Linked DNA regions of Homo sapiens: region 2 is linked to region 1. The links come from fine-mapping of genetic effects on gene expression. A gene starts in region 1. The other region holds a variant in brackets. All regions are shown on one strand. Distances are from middle to middle.

Evidence for each region.
Region 2: its variant is fine-mapped to the expression of CYP19A1 in fibroblasts (GTEx, PIP above 0.99). The same link has a PIP of 0.9 or more in whole blood.

What each region holds. Positions count from the first base shown.
Region 1 is chr15:51,337,215-51,340,131 of GRCh38, reverse strand. CYP19A1 (cytochrome P450 family 19 subfamily A member 1) reads left to right here and starts at 1,536. Exons shown (of 10, transcript NM_000103.4): 1 at 1,536-1,637. RefSeq lists cis regulatory regions at 1,230-1,259, 1,324-1,341, an enhancer at 1,293-1,372 and promoters at 1,293-1,611, 1,034-1,611.
Region 2 is chr15:51,222,462-51,225,378 of GRCh38, reverse strand. CYP19A1 (cytochrome P450 family 19 subfamily A member 1) reads left to right here. Exons shown (of 10, transcript NM_000103.4): 5 at 2,854-2,917. All of the region lies in intron 1 of MIR4713HG (MIR4713 host gene), which reads right to left. Among named protein-coding and RNA genes, the nearest start is that of MIR4713, 18 kb to the left of the region's middle. The variant T/C (reference allele first, on the strand shown) is at 1,272.

The sequences.
Region 1 (2,917 bases):
GCACCATCCCCTCAGTGCTGTTCTCATGATAGTGAGTTATCATGAGATCTGGTTGTTTAAAAGTGTGTAGCATCTCTCCTGGCCCCTCTTCCTCCTGCTCCCACCATGTGAGATGTTCCTGCTCCTGCTTTGCCTTCCTCCATGAGTAAAAGCTCCCTGAGGCCTCCCCAGATGCAGGTGCTGCCATGCTTCCTGTTCAGCCTGTGGAACCATGAGCCAATTAAACTTCTTTTCTTGTAAGTTACCCAGTCTCGGGCTTTTCTTTATAGCAAGGCAAGAATGGACTAATACACATACCAATTCTTGCAGGTAGGATTTTTTGGCACAGGAGAGAAAGCTGAGTAGTATCAGACTTCTTGCCCCCTACTCTCCAGGGTGAGCCAGGGTAGAGCCTCTGAGAATGCACAAGGAAACTGAAGTGACATCTCAATCAGAAATTCTGAGTCAAAGTTTAGATTCCTGAGTTTTAATAGGAACATTGACCAACTTCAGTATTCTTAGAAGAGCATACAGGATAAGAAGAAATTAGGAAAGCATGAAGGTCCAAGTGTTTCATAAAGTACCCCCACTGTGGGGATATGATGACTGGGAGGGGATGGCAGTGATGTAAAAAGCTTTGTCCATTTCCTCCCAACTCAAACGTTCTGTGACCTACTTGAAGAACTGTCATGTATCCTTATCTCTTTTCATCCAGGTATCAGGTTTAGGGCCAATGGGGAGGAGCCACTGAGAGGGAGGGTTGACACTCAGCATCATTCAGATCTTCATTTAATTCAGTAAACACTTAACTGAGCACTTCCTGTGCCTGGTATGATAATGGGCATTGGAGATACGGAAGTAAAAAAGACAGGCAGATTACCCTGTGAGCAGCTGGAACACCGTGGAGCCTTCTGGGCTTCTCTTTATCCTAACATTCATTGCAGTTACTGTTGACTGATCATCTCTCAGCAATACCCACCATTAACCATGGAATAGAAGCCTCCTGAGGCTAGGGGCCATGTCACCCCCAACACATAGCACAGTTCCTGATTTGGAATTCACTATTACCCGTTGAATAAATGAGTGAATGAACGAATGAATAAATGAAAAGCTGTATAGTGAAGGCACTTCTATGTAGAACAATGTGGTGTGTGGTGGGGGGTGTGATCTTATGATTACATGTATATAGATTTTTGTCCATGGTTCTTGTCCATAACTCCCATGACACTTGCTGAGGTCTTTTGCTATAATGTAGAGGTGCTTTAGGCCTCAGGAAACAGAATATTTCTCTGGCCTTCTTTGCCCTCCTTTCATCCACCCAAGGCGGGACTCTATAATCTGATTGTGGGTCATAAGACCCTCATTCCAGAGGAGGTCATGCCCCATACCCTGGAGGAAGGAATGCTGCACAAAGAGAGGAAGAAGAATCTGGACAGACAGACCTTGCTGAGATTAGATCATACCCTTTTTGTCCAATCACATTTTGTTCAATCACATGCTTCAGTCATGGACAACAAATGAAATCTCCATAAAAGGCCCAAAGGACAGGGTTCAGGGAGTTTCTGGAGGGCTGAACACGTGGAGGCAAACAGGAAGGTGAAGAAGAACTTATCCTATCAGGACGGAAGGTCCTGTGCTCGGGATCTTCCAGACGTCGCGTATGTATCTCTTAATCTGACTGAGCCCTCAACCTGTGGGATCAGACACTCTTTCCAGGTAGATAGTGTTGGAACTGAGTTGGAGGACACCCAGCTGGTGCCCGCTGCTTGGTGTGTGGGGGAAAATCCCCTACATTTGGTCGCAGAAGTCTTCTGTGTTGATGACTGTTGTCGTGGTGTGAGAGCAGAGGGAAAACACTGCTTGAGTGTTTTTCTGAAATAGGAGGGCCTAAGAACTATACTGTTCTATGCCACAGAACTGGCCCCCTACTTTCCTTGAAAGGCTGGCTATCCAATGGTGAGGAGAGGAAGTGGTAGCCTGAACCAGCCTCCCCATTTCCCCACCTCCCACCCCAGTTCAGAGCCCAGATCCAGTAGACAGAGCAGAGATGAGGCCTGCTTGGAGCCAGGCAGGCTCTATTAGACAACTTCAGGCCAAGAAGCTGCCCCTCTTGGGATGCAGGACTCAAAAGGCTTGTAGCATGGCCACCCCGTGGGCTGGGTTGGTGGAAAGCCTGGGATATTGCTCTGGGGCAAGAGGGGCAGAAGGAAGCGCAAATGAAAAGCCAGACTCCTTTCCTACCAGACTCCACTGTCAGATCCCTCTCCAACTCTTCCTGTGTGGGATGATGGCATTTTTCACAGAAGAAGGGGGACATGTTGATATGGCCTACAAGGTAGACATCTTCACTCATCTCTCACCCTAAAGTGGCTGTGCCCAAGCAGCTGCCATGCTCTGCCCTCTTTCCTCTTCTCCTCTATCTTCTCTCTCCAACCCTCTTTCCACCGCAGTGCCACACAGTGACCTATCTCCATCACTGGCCTATTTCAGTGTTGCCCACTTTAAGGCCTAACTCCGAGTACCCTTCCTCATCTAGCCTTGACTTCCTAGGCCAGTCCCAAGCACTGTGAGCTCTACAAGCTGCAGGGGCTCTGTGGTTATGCACCTGGGCTTTGGAATCAGACCTGACCTTGAAACTGTTTTTTAACTGCATGACTTTAGATATGCTACTCAAGTTCTTTAAAGAGACTGTAATTGTATCTATTTCATAGGGTTGTGAAGCTTTAATAAGAAAATACTTGTAAAGCACTTGTATAATAAATGTTCAACACGGGTTGGTATTGTTGGATATGGGCCATATGAACTGGCTGAGACTTACACTGTGTGTGCCTTGTGCTGTTAGTTGACACTTTAGTTCTTCTGTGCCTTGTGCTGTTAATCGACATCTTAGTTCTTCCACATCCTATTTCTTCAGTTGGGTTACAATATTCTTAAGGCA
Region 2 (2,917 bases), 110 kb after region 1:
TTTCATTTGGCTCAGGTGTATTAGGAATATGTGAACTAGTATTTAGTAGTAGTTAACTTTCACATACCAATATCCTCTACCCTGACATGCAAGAGCTAATTAAAAGAATCTCTAAGTTCATCCATTTGTTTAACACCCCACCGTTCTCATCTTTGAACTAGGTACCAAGATACAATGACAAACAAGATGTGGTTCCTGCCCTCCAGGAACTTATAATGGGGGAGAGAGGTTTGAATTAGGAAGGGGCAGCCCAGCACATCACCAAATACTACCCTAGGTGATGGTAATGCTGGCGGTGTGCCCAGAGTGATGCCAAGTACAGATGAACAGGCCATCTAAAGCACATTGAGGGGCAGGGGAGACTTTTCAGAGGAATGGATGCTTATAATGAGTTTTAAATGAAGGTAGAAGCTAATTAAGAAAACAAAAGACAAATATTCTAGGAGTAAAGAATAGGATAACCAAAGGCACAGACAAATAGATAGACATGATGCATCCAGGGCCCTGTCGGTAAGTCCTTGTGCCTGGTGCAGATACATTCAGGGACGTGGCCAAGGGGAGGGCAGGGCCAGATCACCAAAGACCTCTCAGTTAAGGCAAGGAATTGAGCTTATCTCAAAAACTATGGAGAATCACTAAAGATTTTAAGCAGAATAACATAAACATATTTGTATTTTATAAAAATCCCTCTGGTAGCAGAGAGAATGACTAATTGGAAGGAAGCAGGATTGTGAGCAGTGAGAACATTTAGGAGCTACTGCAGTGATGCAGGAAGGGTGGAGGGGAGGCTGTGGTTTCAAGAAATGTCAAAAGGGTAGACCCTACAGTAGTAGAGCCTATAGTACTTGGAAATTAAGCAAAACATCTTTGTGATTTTTTTTTAGACAGCCTTCTATAGGCAAGATCAGGGTTTCTACAAAAAGTGCTACATAACTGGACCCAAATTCATAATCTCAGGAAATAGGGGGATAATTGCTTATTGGAAAGTTCACTGTGGTGTCTGACATTTCTATAATCAATGAGGGTCCTAAGCATTTTTCAGTGAATCTCCTTTTGGAGTTAGACTCCCTGTTGGTTTTCCTGATATAGTGGAAAGTTTGGCACAAGTTTTAGTATCTAAATCAGTAACATTAATGAAAGTATTGACTTACTGGGTGAGTCTGTAGAGAAATAGTTAAGTGCAACTTAGGCAATGACCCATCTTGGGAGGTAGGGAAGGGTGGTGGCGAGGGGTGAAGAAATAGCATGTGTTTCCCAAAACTGCCGAGAAA[T/C]GTGTCCATATTGATGGTATTTGCTGATTGTTGCCCAATTTTCTTTTCACTAGATAGAGTCAATACTTTTTAGCATATTTTAAAAATTAAATCATATCTACATCATACCACTGCCTATAAGCCATGTTATTACATTTTTGCCCATAAATTTGGCATGTGGCTTCAAGCTCTTTAAACACAGAGGCAAATCATGCATCGGCCTGGGAGAAAACCACAAGTGACATTCTAAGCCAACCCTTCCACACAAAGGGTTGAGTCATTTGTCCTGCTTGCTGAAGTGGCAGTCACCCAGAGAACAACATCCTGGCCTTTCATATCTGCCAAGTCCTTCCTATGGTCAGAAAGCCTGCTCCTTCCTCAACCTTCCTTCCAAGATGTATGGAAATCTCAAAAGTCTAGGACCAGTCCTCAGGCCTCCTTTCTTATTTGCAAAGTATACCTTTAGGCATGGGGATTCCGCAGCTTAACCCAGTGTGTGTGTGTGTGTGTGTGTGTGTGTGTGTGTGTGTGTGTGAGAGAGAGAGAGAGAGAGAGAGCAAGAGAGAGAGAGAGAGGATAGTCTTCTTCTGGAGTTACGTCTACAAAGTTTCCCAATATTTTTCATCTCATTTCAAAGACTCTGATGTTAACAGCAAACCTGAATAATAAAAGACTTAAAAAGAGATTACTCCTAAAAGATGCTTAAAGAAACGTAACACAAAGAGAGAAAGGGGCACTTTAAGGGTTAAACCCTCCTGTGTAGGCCACCTACCATCAGGACCCACCAGCCACTGCTCAGATATGAACAGGGCAAGAGTAAGATCAAAGCCAGTTTACTCTATTTTCATTCATTCATTCATTCATTCATTCCTCTATTGAAAAAATATGTATGAAGGCCCCCATGGACCATCAGCTTGAAGTGCAATGCTAATGAGTGGCTGTCACTGTCCTTAAAGAGCTCTCAGTTCAGTGAGGGAAGACTGGTAAGCAAGCAAGGAATTGCTTAGCTGTCATGCCATTGGCTGAGTAAAATAAACCTGGAAGTAGTTTGAAGAGAAATCAAAATTAAGAGAAGGGCACTTTGGGGGATTTTTACAACTAGCCTTTTACACTTAAACAGGAAGCACCTTAGATCAAATAGGATCCAATTTGACCAGTTTTCCAATAATATCCTGCCACCTGTTGAAACGCAAAATAAATATGACCCTAGGCAAATCCAAATCATCTTTGGAGGGAAATGTATGCAATAAATATGAAAAAATCACTGATTTGTGATTTATGACCACAAGTACTAAATGTTTCATTTGCAATCTCATAAATGGCTGGCTAGAGCATGAAAAAAAGTTTAATTTTTAATAGTTTGTTTAAAATAATATTTGTCCCTATCTCCTTCCGTTCATTCATTCTTAACCATAGGATAGTACATGCTTATGTAAAATTAGGAGACCACAGAAAAGCATACGAAAATATTATGAAAACTTCCACCCAATTATTAAATTAAAAATTGTGGACAATTAAGCTCCAACATAAAAAGCCAAAATGGCATGATTGTGTGTGTGCCCTGGAGTTCGTGATGGCTGATTCTCTGATGTGTACTCTGCAGCTCTGTCAGGCCCCGGCCTTGTTCGTATGGTCACAGTCTGTGCTGAATCCCTCAAAACACATCT